Regions from separate parts of the Homo sapiens genome. Here all the other regions are linked to region 3. The links come from fine-mapping of genetic effects on gene expression. A gene starts in region 3. Each other region holds a variant in brackets. All regions are shown on one strand. Distances are between the middles of the regions.

Region 1 (5,159 bases), 55 kb before region 3:
GAAGCTTGGAACTAAGCTGACACCAAGAGACCAGATAGAAAATCACAGTGGTCCTGCTGGCGTATTCCATAGAAGTATTTCCCAGAGCTGTAATGAAAAGTTTTCATCAAAAAATGATTACCAATGTTATAAATGATTACCAATGTTATTAACCAACTTCAGCTAAAATCTTTAAATTTACAGGACATGAGTAGGACATTTGGGTTATAAATATTACATGTATTATCATACAGACATACATATTTTTGTATCTATTTTGTCAATTTGCAAAGAAATAAGCTAGAGGGAGTGTGTGTGTGTGAGAGAGGGAGAGAGAATGAAGCAGAGACAAAGAGAGAGACAGACAGACATCCGGTATGTGCATTCTTTGTTCTCTTTATTCTGTTTGCATTTCATGAACCCCGGCAAAGTAGCCTCGGCATTTTAGGGACTCTTTTGCCTTTAACAAAAGGCAAAGGAGACATTTCTGAATGTGTTACTGCAAAACGCTGCTGGGTAGAAATGATAGATAGGTAGTCAGGATAAGAGTGTGAGAGAAACGCAAAGTGGGGCCATGGTAATCACAGCCCAGACTATATAGTTCACCTCTTGGGGTTGAACAGCCTTTACCATCTGGGGTTTCCTCTTCTGTTTGTGTGGCCTGGTGCCAGTGGTAGATAGTGGCCTGTAAGAGAGAAACACATGATATCAATTGACTTAGCAGCTCCTTCAGCATGACAGGGAAACTCCGTAGAAGATTCCCAACTTCTTTTTCCCATTGTGTCTTTCTTGCCTATTGCCTGGGTTTTTATCTGCTCCCTGGGTCAGTTTTTACTTCCCCGTCAGCCTCTTTCATTGCCTTGTAATTCATAATCACTACTAGTTTTCTTTTTTCTCCAAAAACCCCTGACTTCTAAAAATGATAGTGTTGAATCCAAATTTTATCTAAATTATGTTGTTTTATTAATGTCTTACTCAATATTAAAAAACTCATCATGAGTAAATAAGTCTTTCTTTAAAAGTGCTAAAAAAAAAAAAAAAAAAAAAAAAAACACCGTTGTGCCAGAATCACGTTCGTGAGACAAACCCAGCCTCCACCACTTACTCTGCAAGACTGAAAGCATGTTTGCTAATAATCTCTCTGAGCTTGTTTCTATATCCATCAAAATGTGAAGTTCCTAACCTTGCAAAATTGTGTAAGGGTTAGCATAAAACATTTCTCATCTGTAAAATGAAACTCATGACCACTTTATGAAGTTCTTGTGAAGTGTAAATAAGATAATAGATATAAAAGGGCTTAGCACACGGCCGGGTGTGGAGACTCACACCTGTAATCCCGGCACTTAGGGAAGCCAAAGTGGGTGGATCATTTGAGGTCAGGAGTTTGAGACCAGGTTGGCCAACATGGTGAAACCCCATCTCTACTAAAAATACAAAAATAACCCGGTGTGGTGGTATGTGCATGTAATCCCAGATACTCGGGGCTGAGGTAGGAGAAGTACTTGAAACTGGGAGGTGTGGAGGTTGCAGTGAGCCGAGATCGCAGCATCGCACTCCAGCCTGGGCCACAGAGGGAGACTCTTGTCTCAAAAAAAAGTGGGTGGGGCGGTGCTTAGCACAGTGCTCATCGTATATTGATCAAATAATGTTAGATATTATATTCTTACAACAAATTCAAAAAATCTGTCATAATGAGAGTTAATATCACTCTTATTATTATAACTACGGTGACTAACAGAAGGAAAAACAAAAAACATTTCTAGATGTGAAGGATTTCTCAGTTAAAGGGAAACCCAGTTTCTCGTCCAAAAAGACCATCTGCATGTATTTCTGAATATTAGAAGTAAACCAATTCAATTTGAAAGGATAGGTTATACATTGAATTTAAAGTAAAGTAAAATAGGGGTCAAAGAGTCCCTACAGCAAGATAAGATAAAGGATCACCTCTGATCTTTCTTCTGCTTTTCTCTGGAGCTCTGGTGCCGGATTACCATAGCAACCACCACAAAAATGACCGCCATTGGGAACAGCACCCCAACCACAATGGAGAAGTCTGCAGCAGAGAACAGGGGCCCGCTGAGGACTGCAGAAACACACATCTGCACAACACACTAGTCCTTGTTTCTTTACTTAGCACATATTCCAGCTACCCTTTTCTCCAATGAACATAAATTCCCATAGCCAGTAAAATGAAAAAGTATTTTGATCAGGATAATTATATTAATATTAGGTAGAATAAATACACATGAAATCTATAGGAAACATTTAACATGAAATAAGTTAAAAATCATAATATTGAGAATACTTAGATAATGTTTGTAACAACTGGGAAATGAGCTGGGAGATTAGAAGAGAATATACAGTAAGGAAGATGGCAAAGAAGAAATGAAACATTTTTGAAAAGCAGTCTTGGAATAAAACAGAGAAAAAGAAACTAAAACTTTGAAAATACATTCCTGTCATTAGTGAATAAGAAGCTGAGGTGTGACTAAGAAGACAAATAATCGAGTGTTCCACTGATGTTGGTCTACACTGGAATTAGACAGGAAGTTATGTGACCTTGAGAATGAGGAAATGGTTTGAACAAATATTCCTGGGCCTCCATGGTGTTTTTTCTTGTACTGACAAATTTAAATAATGAATATAACTTCACTCTTTTGCTCTTAACTGTTCATTTCTCTTACAATAATCTGAAACCACAAGAGACCAGGAAGGAAAAGATTGAAAAGCAATGCCAAAAGTTACCGTTCTCTTATTACAGAAATCAGCAAACCAATAGCATGATTAATATTTGTATAAATGCAAGAAAAGTTCACAAGTGTGAGCACACACACACATGCAGATAGAGGTAGACACATCAGAAGCAGAATTCTAGGTAAGACAATGACTTTAGTTCAAATATTCGCTACTCGCCACCCTCCATAAGATTCCAATCCAAAAAGTCAAAGGAAAATAAAACAGTGAAGCATTCTGTTATAGTGTAGATACATTCAGAATGAAAAA[C/T]ATACACTTACTTGCACTAATATCAGAACTGTAACTATTTTCAGAAGAATGACATATTATCAGAGAAATAAATGGGAATTTGGCAGTACTTCACAAACACACCAAACTTGAAAAGACATGGTCTGGAGCTAAAATTGGGGCACAGGACAGATGGAAGTATAACAACGGAAGGTTTGCAGGTGAAGATAGAAATCACTGAAGAGTAAGTGCAGCCTCTTCTTGTTTCTGGTAATGGTGGACTAGGAAATTGAGATCAACCTGCCCATTAAAAATAATCTTTTAATCTTTAAATTTTTTGCAAACAAGCAAACAAAAGCATCCTAAAAGTATAAAAGTACTTAAATGTTAGATAAAATTACTTTGTAGAGATTAGTGAGTGGGCAAGGACCTGGAGAGACAGAAAATAATCCTAGATAAAAGTTCAGAAATGCAGAAAGAAATGAAAGGCAAATGAACCAACAGCAAACCCTAATGTAAACTGTGGGCTTGGGGTGATAATGATGTGTTAATGTAGGTTTATGGAGTATTTGTTACCATCAACGAATACTCCACGAGAATGGGGGATGTTGATGGTGAGGGAAGCTGTTCAGGAGTGGGAGTTGCTGGGTATATGTCAACTGTCTGTTCTTTCTCTTCAATTTCGCTGTGAACCCAAAACTGCTCTACAAAAGAAAGTAAGTTAAGTTTATTTTTTTAAAAAAGCAAATGAATTGGGAAGTTTTAGGGTAATCATTAAAATATAAAAGAAATGCATAACATCCAAGTTAATAAAATAATAAAATCAATAAGTCTATAAGAAAGTAAGAAAGGAGAGAAAAGGGAACATAAACAGGAAAGACAAATAGAAACTATATAATTGTGGATTTATACCCAAGTACATCAGTAATTACATTTAATTTAAACGGACTAAGTTCCTCAGTTAAAGAAACAAACAAAAACCAAAGATGTGAGTACTACTAAAAACTATATGTGCATGCTTTCTTTAATAAAAGAAAAAAAGACTTAAAACGTGATTCAGAAAGGATAAAAATGAAAATATGGAAAAATGTTATTTCAGGGCAAATACAGACCAAAACAAATACGTTACAGCTATATGGTCTCCAGGAAGTGTATATTCTCAAAGGTAAGAAGTGTACTAGATAGACACAGCACCATTTCATCATGATACACTGTTCATTAATTTGGAAGAAGCAACACTCTAAACTTGTATGTATATAATAATACGCTCTCAAAGTATAAAAGTATTGATAGAGCCAGAAGTAGTAATCAAATTCACAATTACAGTGGGGGGTATTTTAACACTCCCAGCACAGTAATTGGTAGAACAAATAAACAATGTTAGGCTTAATTTATATATCAGACAATTAATAAACTTGATAAACAAAATATCTGGAGAATACTACAGAACACGTATATGAAAAAATCACAGTCCAATATCACCCATGAATATAAAATAGCCAAAAAATACAAATTCTTCCGGAGAATATAAATGAATACTCTCCAATACACTTTATGCGACTAGCATAACCTTGATACCAAAATTCAGCAATTTTTTCAATATGAAAAAATCACAGTCCAATATCACCCAAGAGTATAAAATAAGAGTAAACATCCTTCACTATATAAAAAAGATATTATTTCTAACTTAGGTTTATTCAAAGGTTGCAAAGTTAGATAAATGTTCACAAACCAATTGACTTATTTGACAGTACTAATAGAGTAAAGGGGAAAACATTTTAATAAATAAGGAAGTATTTGACAGAATTCTTAGAAACTTGAAAGAGAACTAGTGGACCTTAATCCAATCACTAGAATGGATGATCTTGAAAGCATAAGGTAGAGAAAAAGAAGAAAATGAGCATAGAAAAATTTCATACATACAAACTTTAAAGACTCTTGGTGATAATGATGTGTCCGGGTATGTTCATGGATGTAACAAATGTATGTCTCTGGTGACAGTGTTGATAGTGAGGGAAGCTGTGTTTCCTGTGTTTAAAAACTTTATACACATGGAATTATATAACCAAAAGCTGCTGTTTAAGGATGTGTATTTAGGAAGCAAAACTACAAAGAAAACTAACAAAATGATTATGACAAAAGAAAGATTAATGGTCAACCCTTAGAGAAAGAGGGGAGATCAGACTGAAAAGAGGCAGGAAAGCAGATGTCTGGGTCTA
Region 2 (5,159 bases), 87 kb before region 3:
TGGACCATTACGATTGTTGTTCAGTATCCTTATAGAAATAAATCCACATATTTAGGACATATATCAGTATTCTGTACATATTTTGAGATACTGTCACAGTGAACACAGAATCTAAAAAGCACCAGGTAAAGTCCTACAAACCAAGATACTGAAAATCTCTCTAACATTCAGTCTCCTAATGAGTCAACAGGGGATGCTGATAATTTTAACTGCCTCAAGATTCTTATAAAATTCATATGCATTTGCACACACACATATGCACATGCATGTAAAATTGTAAAGAAATGTGCATGTATAAGAAATGTACAAGAAATTTAAATAACCTTGACAGTGCTGGCCTTAACCGAACTATACAACATATGAAGTATGTTCGAGGTGTACTTTCTGAGTTCTACCTTATACAATAACAATGTTTCTCTGACAAATATGGTAGATTTTCATGATTATAATATCACAAGTTTATTATGAGAAAAAAGTTGACTGCCAATGATCCGACATCAAGAAATAACTTCTGTTAACGTTTTTACAATTTATTTTCATCTTCTTATGCAGAAAAGGAAAGCTAACCTTATTGGGCAAAGGGTTTAAGAAACTTATTTTTTTTTCCATGGCACTATGACATAAGCATTCTCATGACATTGAATATTAAGACATAATTTTAGTGATTTTAGAATATCATATTTTCTACATATGTGTGTGTTGAGTGTCCATGTAATGTTTGGTTGTGTATATTTCTTTAATTGAATTTCTGGTGACTTCAGGATAAATGTCTAGAAGTGCTATTATTTAGCTAAAAAGGGTAAATCAACTTGAGATTATTGATAAACATTGACTCAGTGCTTTTCAGAAAGTTAGGGCCAAATTAAATCATTATGTATAGTTTTCCCAATCTAAAAACCCATACCTTCTAACTGCTGAACTTAACTTTTCACTGATACATCTGGGAGTTTCCTAACATCTAATTGGAACTTTAAAAATCCCCTCTCTATGTCTATTCTTCACTTTGTTGCTGTTCTACCTTCCTTTAAAATAGTAACATTTTCTCTATAATTTTGCATTTCTTTTTCTGGTCCAGAGATAGGCATCCTTCTTATATCCTTTATGACCCGCCATTAATATTTTAACAAAGTATAATGCTAATTATGTCTCTATCATCAAATAATAAAAGAATCCTGGAATGGTGAACTCTTATCAGTGCCCTACCCTTTAGCACATTACATGTTGTTGTCAAGTATTTTAGTTTATCATGATTTTGACCCCCATGTTACTCATTATTTTTGTGTGTGTTTTCTACAGATGTTTGAAATTATTCATGTGTACCACCTTCTTTGCTCGCAGGTCCTTTTAGCATCAGTTATTTTTTTTTTAATTCTTCATTAAACATATTCTTTTTTATTATTTCTATAGGTTTTTGGGGAACAGGTGGTATTTGGTTACATGAGTAAGTTCTTTAGTGGTGATTTGTGAGATTTTGGTGTACCCGTCACCTGAGCAGTATACACTGAACCCAATTAGTAGTCTTTTATTCCTCACTGGCTTCCCATCCTTTCCCCCTGAGTCCCCAAAGTCCATTGTATCATTCTTATGTCTTCACATCCTCATAGCTTAGCTCCCACTTATAAGTGAGAACATACAGTGTTTAGTTTTCTGTTCCTGAGTTACCTCACTTAGAATAATAGTCTCCAATCCCATCCAGGTTGTTGCAAATGACATTAATTCATTCCTTTTCATGAATGAGTAGTATTCCATCAAATACATGGTGTATATGTGGTGCATATATATGGTATATATGCATGTATGTATGGTATACATCATATATGTGTGTGTGGTATATACATATATACACCAGTTTCTTTATCTACTCTTTGAATGATGGGCATTTGGGCTGGTTCCACGTTTTTGCAATTGTAAATTTTGCTGCTATAAACATGCAATACACAATGAAATACCACCTTACTCACATAAGAATGGCCATTATAAAAAATAAAAAAATCATAGATGATGTTGGTGTGGATGCAGTGAAAGGGAACACTTCTACACTGCTGGCTGGAATGGAAACTAATACAGCCACTATGGAAAACAGTGTGGAGATTCCATAAAGAGCTAAAAGTCTAACTACCACTTGATTCAGCAGTTTCTCTACTGGATGAGATTTGGCTATCTTTTGGTGACCATTATTGCTGTGGACAATTTTGCTTTCTGGCTATTTAGCGGGAACTAATTTGCTTATTAATTATACAACTAGTATTGCTAGGGCAGTTGAATATTTATTGAAATCATATTAAAGTTGTGTTTCTAATAAATTGCTACTACATTTCTAAGGATTCTAAGCTGACTGATACTGTCCTTGCTATTCACATATTCCCACAATAAAGTCTAATAATGGAGACACAACCACAAACAGGTAGTCTGTACAAATATGAAGTATTATGATTGATATTTGTGTATTGTGCTGAAATCAATTTTAGAAAGGCCATATCACTTGATAGGTGGAGAGAATCAGATAATACCTGGAAAAGGAATAGTGGAGCTGGTACTATGAGCAAAACCATGAGTATATAGAAAATCATACTGTTTGTTGAAGTGTATGTTCCTCATGACTTGAACGTAACATAAAGGAACCAACCCAAATGCCCATTAGTGATAGACTGGATAAAGAAAATGTGGCACATATACACCATGGAATACTATGCATCCATAAAAAAGGGTGAGTTCATGTCCTTTGCAGGGACATGGATGAAGCTGGAAACCATCATTCTCAGCAAACTAACAAAAGAACAGAAAACCATACACCACATTTTCTCACTCATAAGTGGGAGTTGAACAATGAGAACACATGGACACAAGGAGGGGAACATCACATACC[G/A]GGGCCTGCTGGGGGGTGGGGGGCTAGGGGAGGGATAGCATTAGGAGATATACCTAATGTAGGTGACGGGTTGATGGATGCAGCAAACCACCATGGCATGTGTATACCTATGTAACAAAACTGCACGTTCTGAACATGTATCCCAGAACTTTATAATAAAAAAGTAATAGGTATGTGATATAAAACTTATAACACATGCAGAGGCCAAGTTATGGGGGAACAAATGATCTTAAAGAAGGTACATATTTGAGAGATACTTAGCTTACACAATTATCAGACTTGCTGATTGATTGTATGTAGCCACTCCCAGTTGGAAGACACAGAGGAATCTAGAATGAGTTCTAAGGTTCAGCTTGAGCCACTATATAAATCTTCCAATTTGGTGTCTTGATGGAAGTTGCAGTTTGTTAATCCATTAAAAATGGAGTTATATATCCTGGGGCACCCTTCAGGACCACAGCACCATGATGATAATAGATGTTTAAAATATTCATTTAATATATGAATACCATAAAAAATTTGAAAACTAAACTCTGCATAAGATACAGATGCTGTTTATTAGATAGTTGAATATCAGCCTATAAATCAAAACTGTGGGAATAACAGTGAAGAAATTGTTTACCCAATGCATCTGGAGGGAATGAGAAATAGAATATATACAGAGCCTTATGAAGACAATATTTAAGGATTGACTAAACATAGGATTTAATTTATGATCCTAAAACTAAGAAATCACGACCAACATCCTGATTACAAAGAATTTTATTCCCATAAAGCTTGCAACTTAACATTTTAGAATGTTGCATAATAACATATTTTTGATTTGGGGCGGATGTTTAAATGTTGTCAAGCTACAAATGAAAATAGAGCAGTAACATGGACAAAAATTATGATAATGTCTTGCACAAGTAACGACTTTTGCATACATGATTTTCTTTGGTCATAATAACAACAGATACAAGTAGTCAGTTCAAAGATTGTGGTTCCCATTTTATAGATGACTCAAAGAGGTTAGGTGATCTAGTATACTTCAAATCACCCAGGTATGTAATAGATGTCTCCAAGGTCATTAAGGTGGGAAAAGACGTGCTTGATAAAGAATTTCAAATATTTTACTGTGGGAGATCTCTATGATGGCTTCAACTGCTGCAAAGAAGAAGCCTGTCTCAAGGATATGATAATGTAAGAGTCAGAGGTTCGAGATGAGAAGTAACATAGTGGTGGCCAAGCTCTGAACTCCTTTGATGCTCAGGAATCCCTATTTGCTTATGACTGGCATTGGGGGAGGGATCATGTTCCCTACCTCGGTGGTCTATCAATATATTGGAATTATCTAATGAGATAATTTTTTCCAATCTGAGCTTGTCCAAACCCACCAGGAATCCCTACTGGATGAAGCTGTGTTAATAGTAATATTAGCTAACAATTATATAGCCATGCATTGTTCTAAGTGGCTTGCATGCATTCAAACATTTTATGTTCATTACAACCCTATTTAAAATATATTTAAACAAAAAAAAGTTTAAATATCTTGTCTGGATCCTACCAATTTTGCTGACCCATATAATGTCAGTACATCCAGTTTTTCTGTTTTTTCTAATTATGAACATTTTTATCTTAAAATTATAATTGCTAAGACTGAAGTAACATAGCAAAAACTTATTGTTATATTCAGAGCCCAAATAAAGATACAAGTTTATGCACATAAATTATACTTTTTGCTATGGAGATCAATGAAATAAATCTTGCATTAATGATACCTTGATGAGCTAGAAAAAAATACATATATATAATATAAAATGTGTATAACACATTATCTTTTTGCCTTTACAATTCTCACATTTCTTCTAACATTATATATCTGTATAGTGTACATAGGTTGTATATATAATGTATATTTAATATATAATTACATATATTATATATTACATAATATATAATGTATAATATATAATACAAGTAGTGTATGTAATCCATTGTTCTTATTTACAAGTTTGTTTTGGCTCTTCTGGGTCTGCTACATTTTGATACCAATTTTGATTCAACCTATCAGTTCCCAATAAAGATCTTACTAGGATTTTGATTGGGATTGCATTGAATCATTGAGCCAAACTGGTAATAATTGATATTCTGATGCATAAACACGTGTATTTCTTCGCTTAGGTCTTTTTAAATATTTGTCTCATTGATGGTTTGTAGTTTTTAAAATAGAGTACGTGGACAAATTTCATCAAATGTGTTTTGAAATATTTTTTGCTTTTCGATGGTATCGTAAATGAAATTATTTCTCCAT
Region 3 (5,159 bases):
TTAAGTTTAATGGAAATGGTGCAGCGTCTTCCCCACTGAATAACATCACGTTAATTATTTTTGAAGCCTGAGGAACAAACACAACTAACTGCCATCCAGGGATTACACAAATCCAAGGTGTAACACAATATGTTTTTACTAATTCATTTTAATACTTGCCTTCTCTCTCCCACAGAACTCACACACTGGATTAGTCTTGACTAGCAAAACCAGATCAGGAAAAAGAAAACTGTTATTTTGGTTTAGATGGGATAATTATTTTTGACTGTTTTGAGTCTTAGAAAAGCCAAAGCTCATTAACAACGTTAATATGAGAGACATTAGTCTGGATTGCTACATTATTTGTTCATGTGTTTGGGGTCATTTTGGAAATGGGAACATGAGTATGTAATATTGACATTTTCATTTTCGTTCAAATGTGTTTGAAACTGTTCAAAGAAATGTCTTCTTTCCAAACTGAACACATCATATTAAACGCTGAATTAGGGTTTACACAAGGATATTGACTTATGTCCTGGGATTCTCTGCATCTCCTCAAACCATCTTGTGGTTTTAAACTTCATGCATTAAAAGTGAGTACAAACAAAAGGGAAAAAACTGCATTTCTATTAGGTCTGTTATTTTGACTATTTAGATTAAACTGTATATTTTCTTTTCAGTCTTCCAGTTACCTTATAAAGGCAAGGAAGAACTGGTAGTTTGAAATAAAATAATTTCAAAAAGTGCTGTACCCCCTGAGTATTCTGCTGTAATAAGGTAAGCACCTTTCTCCTTTGTTGATGCAATCATTTACATCTTCACCCCGCAAACACCTGTCACATCCTTTTAAATATTTGTTTTTCCTTTTCCTAGGATGAAATCCCATAAGTCAATTTTTTCTCGGGATTGTGAAGTTCACTGCACACAACCAGCCTTATTTTACATCTCTTTCTTTTATTTCAACCATCTGGGGACTGGGCAGAAGTCATGGTCAGAGGGGCACATATGTATTGCTTTGATGATGGGGGCAGAGAACAAACAGGAAGAACTGGGAAATGAAAATTGCTTTACTTCTTATATTCTGACTAGAAAGGCAACCCAAATGGGAATCATAACAGGGATAGTTCAGTGGCAAAAAGACACCCTTAAAAATAGAAGCTAGAAGTTAAAGGAGGGGTGACATCACACTTTTAGAGTTGACATCAGAGGAAGTTGCATCTCTTGGTGCCATGTTATACATGCACCGTCGGGGCAGCAGAACTGATTAGTGTGCCCAGTTGCACAAAAGGACTGTAATGTGCATGGGCCCCAGTGTTAGCCATGTGACTCTGTTAATGGATCCAGCTTGATCTTTACGCTCTTCAACTAAGCTAGTGCCCAAGCAGTTCTTGTATTTCAGCTTAGAGGGGGTTCTGGAAAAGCTCTTGGTGATAGCATTTTTGGAGAACGGAGAGAAAAAAACATTTCTATTAAGTCTGCCTCAAAAAGTAGGAATTTCAGGTCAATGTTAAATGCCTGGCATGAGTTTTATATATATTTTTAATATTTCAGGCTTATTTTACCAAAAGAAAGCTGGTGTAACACGTTCACATCAGACAAAATAGGTATCAAAGCAAAAGGCATTAGAGATGAAGAGGATCACAGCACAGTGGGAAAAGGTTCAGTTCAGATATAGGTACATATTATATAAAGCAAAAATACACAGAAACAAAAGGAAAATAATTCGATATTTAAAGATATTAGGTTAAGTGAAATTTTTATAAGTCTTGAAAACAAATCAGAAACAGGTGAGACACAGGAAAATCATTTTTAGCAACAAAGTACTAAGAGGGTGCATGGACAAGGAAAACTTTTCCCTCCCTAAGCCCATACCTCTAGTTGATAATCTGTTCCCATCCCCAGGTCCCAGCAAACATTCTAAGACCCAAGAACAGGTTTACTGGGAGGAATTCGAGGCACTGCAGTTCATGTGCTGAGTTAAATAAGCTCTGGAAATAGAAGCTGAAGAATCACAATACCCAATCTAATTTAACCAAAGTCTAATTAGAGAATTTACCAGAAATTGAGAGACTTGCTAGACATAATTTCCTGTTAGGAAGTAGTATTTTTCTCCTTTCAAATTTTTAAATGTTTGGTATAATCAGCAAAATAGAAGTAAATTATCAATTTAAGCTTAACAGAGATATTTTGTTAAGTAATATCACAGTACCTTATAAATAAAAAATATTAATTATTTCCAGTTAGTCACACGTATTATTACTAATAATGAGTAAATACAAAAATATACACTCAAACAGAAAGAGCCAAACTGGCTCCCATAATAATAGTAGGTATTTTCCTAAGCCTTGTACACAGTAATAAATAAATAAATCTGCCACATCTTTACCATTCTTTAAATGACAAGCTGGGTTTTGATGAATTCCACTTTTTCAGTCAAAAATCATATTCATGATTTAAATTGTGCTGTATGAAATTGTCCCTTTTATTTCTGTATATTCTCAGATGAGATGCATACATATTGGTTCAAGACCTCTTGTTGCCTCTTTTTAACATTGTCTTTGTATCACTCGCAGCCCCCAAACAACAGGTTAAAACCAGCCCAACTGGTTAGTAAGATTGATTGAGAAAAAAGAAAAAGAAAAAAGTCAAAATAGTTTATACAATAAAACTATTAGGAGACTATGAAAAGTTCGCTAATGCATTCAATAGAACCTGAAAAAGAGCTAAATATGTACCTGCAACAGAGAGGAGGAGACTGACTGGCAGGAGACCTTGCAACATGCTGGGTGATTCCAGGAGCACGGTGTCTGCTCTTCTCGCTCAGGTGGGTGCTGCTGGGTCTGTCCCTGCCTCCTCTCCAGTGAGACAGAATGAAACTCCCTGGTTCATTCTTGTCTCTGATTCAGGAAGTGTTTACTAAAGGTGTTGCGCAACCTCGAAGCTGTGGTCCTGCAACAATGGCCCAGCAGGCGGAAGTCCTGGCTGCCTCCTGGCTCTAAGATTACTTGATCTGAACTATTGTTTTGCTCTCCTTTGCCATACTCCCCACTCCAAAGTAGTACATTTCCAACATATTACTATAGCCAGATAAGCTACAAGGAAAGAGGCAACTGCATTAATGAGTCTTGAAAAACATGCTAGACATTTATTTACATTACGGATATGATATATAAATATATGTTTAAATATATTTTTATATATATACAGTTGTAGGAAAAAAGTTATTAAGAATGTTATTTTTCCCCCACATACATAATGTGGTTATGTAAAGCAATTTCTAATTCAACCTAATTACTATATAGCATTCTCTTTTCCATTATTTTATGTTCTATTCCTCACACAAGTGTACTCTCAGGAAGTTTGAACTATCCTGAAATAAGAATGTCTGACAATATAAGCACAATAATTTTTAGATCCTTGGGGGTATTTGTGTCATAACTGGCAATGAGGAGTGTGGAAGAAGGATTCAAGACCCAAAGGATACAATTTTAGGATCTGTCACTGGTGGTAGTAAGGCTAAACTGGGCATGTCTAAAAATCATACTTATAACCAATAAAATAACTAATATCAACTGAGCTGCTTATTAAGTTTTAGGTACTGATAGGGTTTGGTTGTGTCCCTACCTGAATCTCATCTTGAATTGTAGCTCCCATAATCCCCATGTGTTGTGGGAGGGACCCAGTGGGAGATAATTGAATCAAGGGGCGGGCTTTTCCCATGCTGTTCTCATTATAGTGAATAAGTCTCATAAGATCTAATGATTTTATAAAGGGCAGTTCCCCTGCTCAGGCTCTCTTTGCCTGCCTCCATGTAAGATGTGTCTTTGCTCCTCCTTCACCTTCTACCATGAGAGTGAGGCCTCCCCAGCCATGTGAAACTGTGAGGCCATGAAACCTCTTTTTAATTTACCCAGTCTCAGATATTTCTTCGTGATAGTATGAAAATGGACTAATACAGGTACTCTCCTAAATCTACTGTACTTGTTATTTTATTAGTCTTTATGATACTCATGTATTATGCATTTACAATCATTTTGCAGGTGAAAATTTGGGGTTTTAAAGGCAAAATTCAAAAGATTAAGAATCAGTTGTCCCCTCATTGTATAGATTAAGAAGATTAAGCAGATAAAGTCACCTATCCAGTAAGTGGTAGAAGTGGAATCTGAACTATGTGTTGTCTGGGCTCTTAGTCATATACTCTAATGCTTTCCCTTGGCTTAGCTGACTTGTACTCCCAGTATCATTTCTATTGAAAAGATTCTGGGAGAATAGAAATAATTATGAAATTCCTAAGGAATAGAAATTACGCTGAGGACCAGTTATTACCACAAAACCTAGTCCTAGTCCACTAAAATCATGCATCATTTTACAGATTCTGAAACACATTCTCATACTAGAGGGATTACAGTGATTATTGATGTCTCCAAATGATTATACAGTCATCAACTAAAACCACAAAGGAATTTTTGAGTCTAGTTACTGAGCATTTTAACCATCAGGATTGCGATTCACAGATTTCTTGCCTTTTCAACCCAAGTTCCATTGCTTTGTCTTTTCCAGGGAACAGAAAGGATACTTCAACTTTTAATTATTACATATTTTTTCTCCATTAATTCAACGTAATTTTACTTACAGCTATTATGTGTCAGACACTGAGATTGCAGTTGAAAAAACACAATCATGGCCGGGAGTGGTGGCTCATGTCTGTAATCCCAGCACTTTGGGAGGCTGAGGCAGACAGACTACCTGAGATCAGAATTTGAGACCAGCCTGCCCAACATGGTGAAACCCCATCTCTACTAAAAAAAAAAAATTAGCTGGGTGTGGTGGTGGTCACCTGTAATCCCAGTTACTCAGGAGGCTGAGGTAGGAGAACTGCTTGATTGCTTGAACCCAGGAGGCAGAGGCTGCAGCGAGCTGAGATTGCAACAACACACTCCAGCCTGGGCAACAGAGCGAGACAGTGTCTCAAACAAACAAACAAACAAAAAACACAATCACTTTCATTGAGATGTTCACAATCTGACAAAGATAAGTTCAATTACCATAAAATTGCACAGAGTGAGTACCACCTATAAATGATCACAATATCACAAGGTGTTTAGTGTTACAATAGATTTATCAATAGAAGTCAGAGGTCTACACCAAACAGGGCAGGGAGTGCATCCTGGTGGCAGGAG
Region 4 (5,159 bases), 73 kb before region 3:
CAAAGCCTCCATGCTTTATTACATTGAACAAAGAGAAGCAATTGTGGAAAGTAACTACATTATATGGGGAGGCCAAAGGAAGGTCATTATTTTAACAAGGTCTGGTTTTACAGAATCCTCCCAGCTGTGACTCCGCATTGAAGAATGTTTCCTTTCTACTGATACAAGGATAAAATCATTCACATGGGAGTTTTAATCTCCTGTTTTCAGGAAGAAAGGTGGATGATTGGAATGCCCCCTTCTTGCACCTGCTGTAATTCAAATGACTTCAGTTTGAAGTCATCCTATGTCAAAGTGGCATCGTTTGAAGTGGTACATTCTGCTACTCTCAGGGACATCCAAACATTGGAATTTTATTCTGCCCTAAAAAGACATGAGTTATGTTGCTTGAAAAGACATGGAGAAACTTTAAATGAATATTGCTAAGTGAAAGAAGTCAATCTGAAAGGTTATGTACTGTTTGATTCCAATGATAATGCTATTCTGAAAGAAGCAAAACTATTAATAGTAAAAGGAACAATGGCTGCCAGGAGTTAGGGAGGAGGGAGGGATGAATAGGCAGAGAAAAGAGAATTTTAAGGCAGTAAAACTATTCTGTATGATACTATAATGGTGGATACATGTCGTCATACACTTGTCAAAACCCATAGAAGAGAAGATACACCAGGAATAAACCCTAATTTAAACTATGGGCATTGGATGAAAATAATGGAACAAAGGAGAGTCATCAATGATCAAGTATATCATCCTGGTATGAGATGTTGATAGTGGGGGAAGCTGTGTGTGGGAGCAGGGAAGAATCTCTGCTTTCTGCTCAATTTTTTTCTAAGTACCTAAAACTGCTCTAAAATATAGCCTATTTTTAAAAAGCCATGTCTTTTGTGCATGGTCATAGGCATGAACCTCTAATGAATGAAAGAACAGAGTGCTGCACCTATTATGAGTTTCCCAAAATGCTTTGGATTCTGCTATAGTCATGAATATTTTCTTATTTATGCTTGATATTTTTATATAAAGTTTTTCAGCAACCACCAGGAGAGAAATCATAATCTCAAGTCTGAATATTTTCTTTTACTCATTATTTACAAGCTGATCTTTTCAAGATTATTTGCCTTTTTTAAACATTTTACTTTGTAGAACTACCACTGGATCCGGCAATCCCACTACTGGCTATCTACCCAAAGGAAATGAAGTCATTTTGTGAAGAAGGCACAAGTACATGTGCATGTGCATGTTTATATGTTTATAGCAACACAACTCACAATTGCAAAGATAAAGAACCAACCTAAATGCCTATCAACCAATGAGTGGATAAAGAAAATGTGATGTATGTACACCATGGAACACCACTCCACCATAAAAAGGAATAATGTCTTTTAAAGCAACTTGGATGGAGCTGGAGGCCATTATTCTAAGTGAAGTCACCCAGAAATGGAAAAACCAAATATCCTAGGCTCTTCTAAGTGGGAGCTAAGCTGTGAGGATGCAAAGGCATAAGAATGATATAAGGGACTTGGGGAACTTGGAGGAGGTTAGGAGGGGAGTGAGGGATAAGACAACATATTGGGTACAGTGTACACTGCTCATGTGACAGGTGCATCAAAATCTCAGAAATTACCACTGAAGAACTTATCCATGTAATGAAACATCACCTGTTCCCCAAAAACTACTGTAATAAAAACAAAACATAATAATTTTATTCCAGGTAAAGTCAGAGGCTTTAGCAGTACCACCAGTTAAATATCCTATGTTTAGAATTTGAAAATTCTTTGGATAAACAGTTGACATTACAAACATATATTTTTGAATTTGAATTTTTTATAATCAAATTACTTTTGCTATTTCGGATACTAATTTGCATGAATAATCAAGATCAATACTTACAGCATACAATTAATCTCTTAAGATAATAGTAGGCATAAGATGTTGGTAGCCAACTAGAGCCGAGATATTTCCATTAAATCTTTGTTTCTTAATCAAGAGTATACATTAGATTCATCTCTAGAACTTATTAAAATACTGACATCTTGATTCCTTCCCTCTGTGTTCAGATTTTGTTAGTATAAAGTGGTTGGTATAAATGGTTCTTGATACATTTTGTCAAGAACCATTATTACATGAAGAACTCTTTCAATATTTTTAGAAAATAAAAAATATACATATTACTTTACTCTTATTTCTTTTACTCCATGCTGGATTGATTACAAACAAAATAATTAAAGGATAAGAGAACA[A/T]ATATTGTAACAAACACCCTACATATACTTTAGTCACCGGAAAAGATCATCCAATATACCTAGGAATTATTCTGTAAGGAAAATACAGTTCCTCAAATAATCAACTGAGAACCTTTAAAAATTATAATTAATGATTAGGCAGTGATAAAACTGTAACCAATGTCACTAAAGCCACTGTGTTTTCAGATACTGAATTCCCTCGAAGGAAAATTTAAAGATGCTATGATCTATATTAAAAAAGTATTTCAAGTATTCTAAAAGTAGGTGAAATAACTTGTTCAGTGATGATATGAATAGGCAAGCTATTACTTGGCTTCCAAACTCATGATATGCAGCTCAGTTAGAAACAATTTTTCCATTACCCTGAGCAGTGCTGAAAGTTATTGATGAAAAGGTTGAGAGGGTGTTCTAATTTGAGCCTATGTCTCGCTTCCTGCTGGGGTTTATTTATGACTGTGTGTGTGACTGCAGTGTGGTTAGGGCAGGCAGCCAAGAGTCTGTAGCCATGAAGTACTGAGGGGCTCCCAGGGTGGGGAATCAAGCAAAAGGTACAGACAGGTTCTCTAGTTGGATACAACAGCAACACCATCCTGAGTACAAATTTTAGGTCTCAGAAGCAAAAAGAGCTGTGCTCAGTCTTTTTTATTTTTATTCACTAGGCTGATTTTGTTGTGTTTATGTGGTTTTGCTGTCTCCCATGATGGTATGTACAGCTCAGTCTTAACCATTAATTTTTATTCACTTGGCTGATTTTGTTGTGTTTATGTGGTTTTGCTGTCTTCCATGATGGTATGTTTGTTCTTTATAGACACTGTGAGTCTCATATAAATCCTGTTTACTTTTCTTGTTTACTTTTTTATTCTTAGATAGTTTGGAGTACAGTTTGGAGCTCATATTTATCAAACACGTAGGGCCGTATATTTTAAATTTCACAAGTCTCATCTGACCCATGGCTTTATGGTTTCTAGAACTTTCTTGCTTTCTGATTTTCTTAAATGTTCATTTTTGGGGGGTGTTATACTTTTCTAAATCTCCTAAGTTTGTGTATGCACAAATATGTATGTATCTTTGATGAAACATGGTATATATAAATACCTAAACGTATTCAAAAATAACAATTTTTGGTTTTCCATAGTCTTGATGATCTGCTTGCAGTTCCCTGAACATGTCATGGCCCTTGTGGATTCATGACTTAGCAAGGCTATTATTTAACTCCGTTATTTTCTAGAAGACTTTTTTTTCTCTTTTTCCTTTATAGATCTGATAAATTGCCTAGAGTTCAAGATTTAAACGGCACCTCCTCTGAGAAACTTCTCATGCCTTCTCTTGATAAACATTTCCTCTGTACTTTCTTGTTCTCATAGTTTAGCAATTTATTTTAGTGATTATTTATTTCTATATTTATGTCAGTCTCTAGAGCTAGGATGAGAATCCCTGGACGGCAGGGAAAGAGGTTAATCCTTCTAGCTCCAGTGTCCACTTAGTAAATGGAGACTTTGTAAATGTTTGTATTGCAGAATTACAGAAAACAACCAGATAAGTGTAAATTACACAATGTATTAAGCTCAGAATCTTGGTGGAAGACTTTTGTTAGTTGATTTATTGAGTGCTTACCATTTCCCAGGCTCTCTGCTAATCACTAGTAACAAGAATGGGGAAAAATGAGAACGGATTTTCAGGAGTAGAAAATCAAGGGGCATAAGATTTGACTGCAGCAGAATGGCTATTACTAAAAAGTCAACAATGGATGATGGCAAAGCTGTGGAGAAAAAGGAATGCTTTTACATTATTGGTGGGAGTATAAATTAGTACAACTGTTGTAAGAGAGGGTGTGGCGATTGCTCAAAGACCTAGAGGCAGAAATACCTTTTGACCCAGCAATCCCATTACTAAGTACATAACCAAAGGAATAGAAATTGTTCTGTTAAAAAGACACATCCACTGTCTGCATTGCAGCACCATTCACAATAGCAAAGACATGGAATCAACCTAAATGCCCATCAGTGATGGACTGGATAAAGAAAATGTGGTATATAAGCAACATGGAATACTATGCAGCCATAAAAAGAAATGAGATCATGTCTTTTGCAGTGACATGGATGGAACTGGAGCACATTATCTTAAGCAAACTAACACAGAAACAGAAAACCAAATATGACATGTTCTCACTTATATGTGGGAGCTAAATGATGAGAACAAATGGACATATGCAGGGGAACAGCAAACACTAGGGCCTGTCAGAGGGGGTTGGGAGGAGGAGAAGATCAGAAAGAATTGCTGATGGATGTTGATCTTAATACCTGGGTGATGGAATGATCTGCAGCAAACCACCATGGCACCTGTTTACTTACCTATGTAACAAACCTGCACATCCTGCACATGTACCTCTGAAGTTAAAATAAAAGTTGGAAATGAAAAAATTAAAAAAAGATTTGACTGCAACTTCAGATACACTTTCACTGGAAACATTGCCTAGAAGAATTTGTTGCTGGAGATAAAATAGAATTCTCATATTTAATAATATAGTATTAAATGTGCTTCTCAGTGCAAAATAGTTTTGCTGCAGACAGTGTGGTTGTGTGAAAGGAAGTAAGATTCCTGTGCAAGACTGTCATAAATGTTAAGTGAAATTATACATGCACACATACGAACACACAAAAATACACACAAACTTGCATAAATCAGAATGTGCTACTGTGTACTTTTGTTATTACCTTATGATATCCTTACTTTAAGAAATAATCAAATTTGAAATTGGCTATGACTTTATTTTCTAAAAATTGTATGAATTCAGTCCATGTTAATTTCCCCAAAATATGAATCCAGGGTCTTTGCACAATGCAGCCTCAGATCTAGGACAGTATTTTATTTGGCCCAGAAGTTCTGACTGAGATTCAACTTAATTATATAAGATGAGAAAACCGA

Direction of the effects. Alleles are on the strand shown, and positions count from the first base shown. SD is a standard deviation of normalised expression in the study named. Not every link is listed here.
In carriers of allele G in region 2, the expression in monocytes of the gene that starts at base 2,841 in region 3 tends to be lower than with A alone (moderate effect, 0.57 SD a copy in BLUEPRINT).

Evidence for each region. PIP is the estimated chance that this variant, and not a neighbour inherited with it, causes the effect. A credible set is the group of variants that fine-mapping cannot tell apart.
Region 1: its variant is the best candidate, but not a certain one, in a credible set for the expression of ADAM28 in blood mononuclear cells (TOPMed, PIP 0.90).
Region 2: its variant is the best candidate, but not a certain one, in a credible set for the expression of ADAM28 in monocytes (BLUEPRINT, PIP 0.54).
Region 4: its variant is the best candidate, but not a certain one, in a credible set for the expression of ADAM28 in blood mononuclear cells (TOPMed, PIP 0.59).

What each region holds. Positions count from the first base shown.
Region 1 is chr8:24,346,737-24,351,895 of GRCh38, reverse strand. ADAM28 (ADAM metallopeptidase domain 28) reads right to left here. Exons shown (of 23, transcript NM_014265.6): 19 at 1,924-2,032; 20 at 586-664. The region is part of intron 3 of ADAM7-AS1 (ADAM7, ADAMDEC1 and ADAM28 antisense RNA 1); the gene reads left to right. Among named protein-coding and RNA genes, the nearest start is that of ADAMDEC1, 35 kb to the left of the region's middle. The variant C/T (reference allele first, on the strand shown) is at 2,983.
Region 2 is chr8:24,379,034-24,384,192 of GRCh38, reverse strand. The region is part of intron 3 of ADAM7-AS1 (ADAM7, ADAMDEC1 and ADAM28 antisense RNA 1); the gene reads left to right. Among named protein-coding and RNA genes, the nearest start is that of ADAMDEC1, 2.7 kb to the left of the region's middle. The variant G/A (reference allele first, on the strand shown) is at 2,867.
Region 3 is chr8:24,291,751-24,296,909 of GRCh38, reverse strand. ADAM28 (ADAM metallopeptidase domain 28) reads right to left here and starts at 2,841. Exons shown (of 23, transcript NM_014265.6): 1 at 2,715-2,841. The coding sequence starts at 2,760. It overlaps ADAM7-AS1 (ADAM7, ADAMDEC1 and ADAM28 antisense RNA 1), which reads left to right. Exons shown (of 6, transcript NR_125808.1): 5 at 660-756; 6 at 853-1,096.
Region 4 is chr8:24,365,040-24,370,198 of GRCh38, reverse strand. The region is part of intron 3 of ADAM7-AS1 (ADAM7, ADAMDEC1 and ADAM28 antisense RNA 1); the gene reads left to right. Among named protein-coding and RNA genes, the nearest start is that of ADAMDEC1, 17 kb to the left of the region's middle. The variant A/T (reference allele first, on the strand shown) is at 2,235.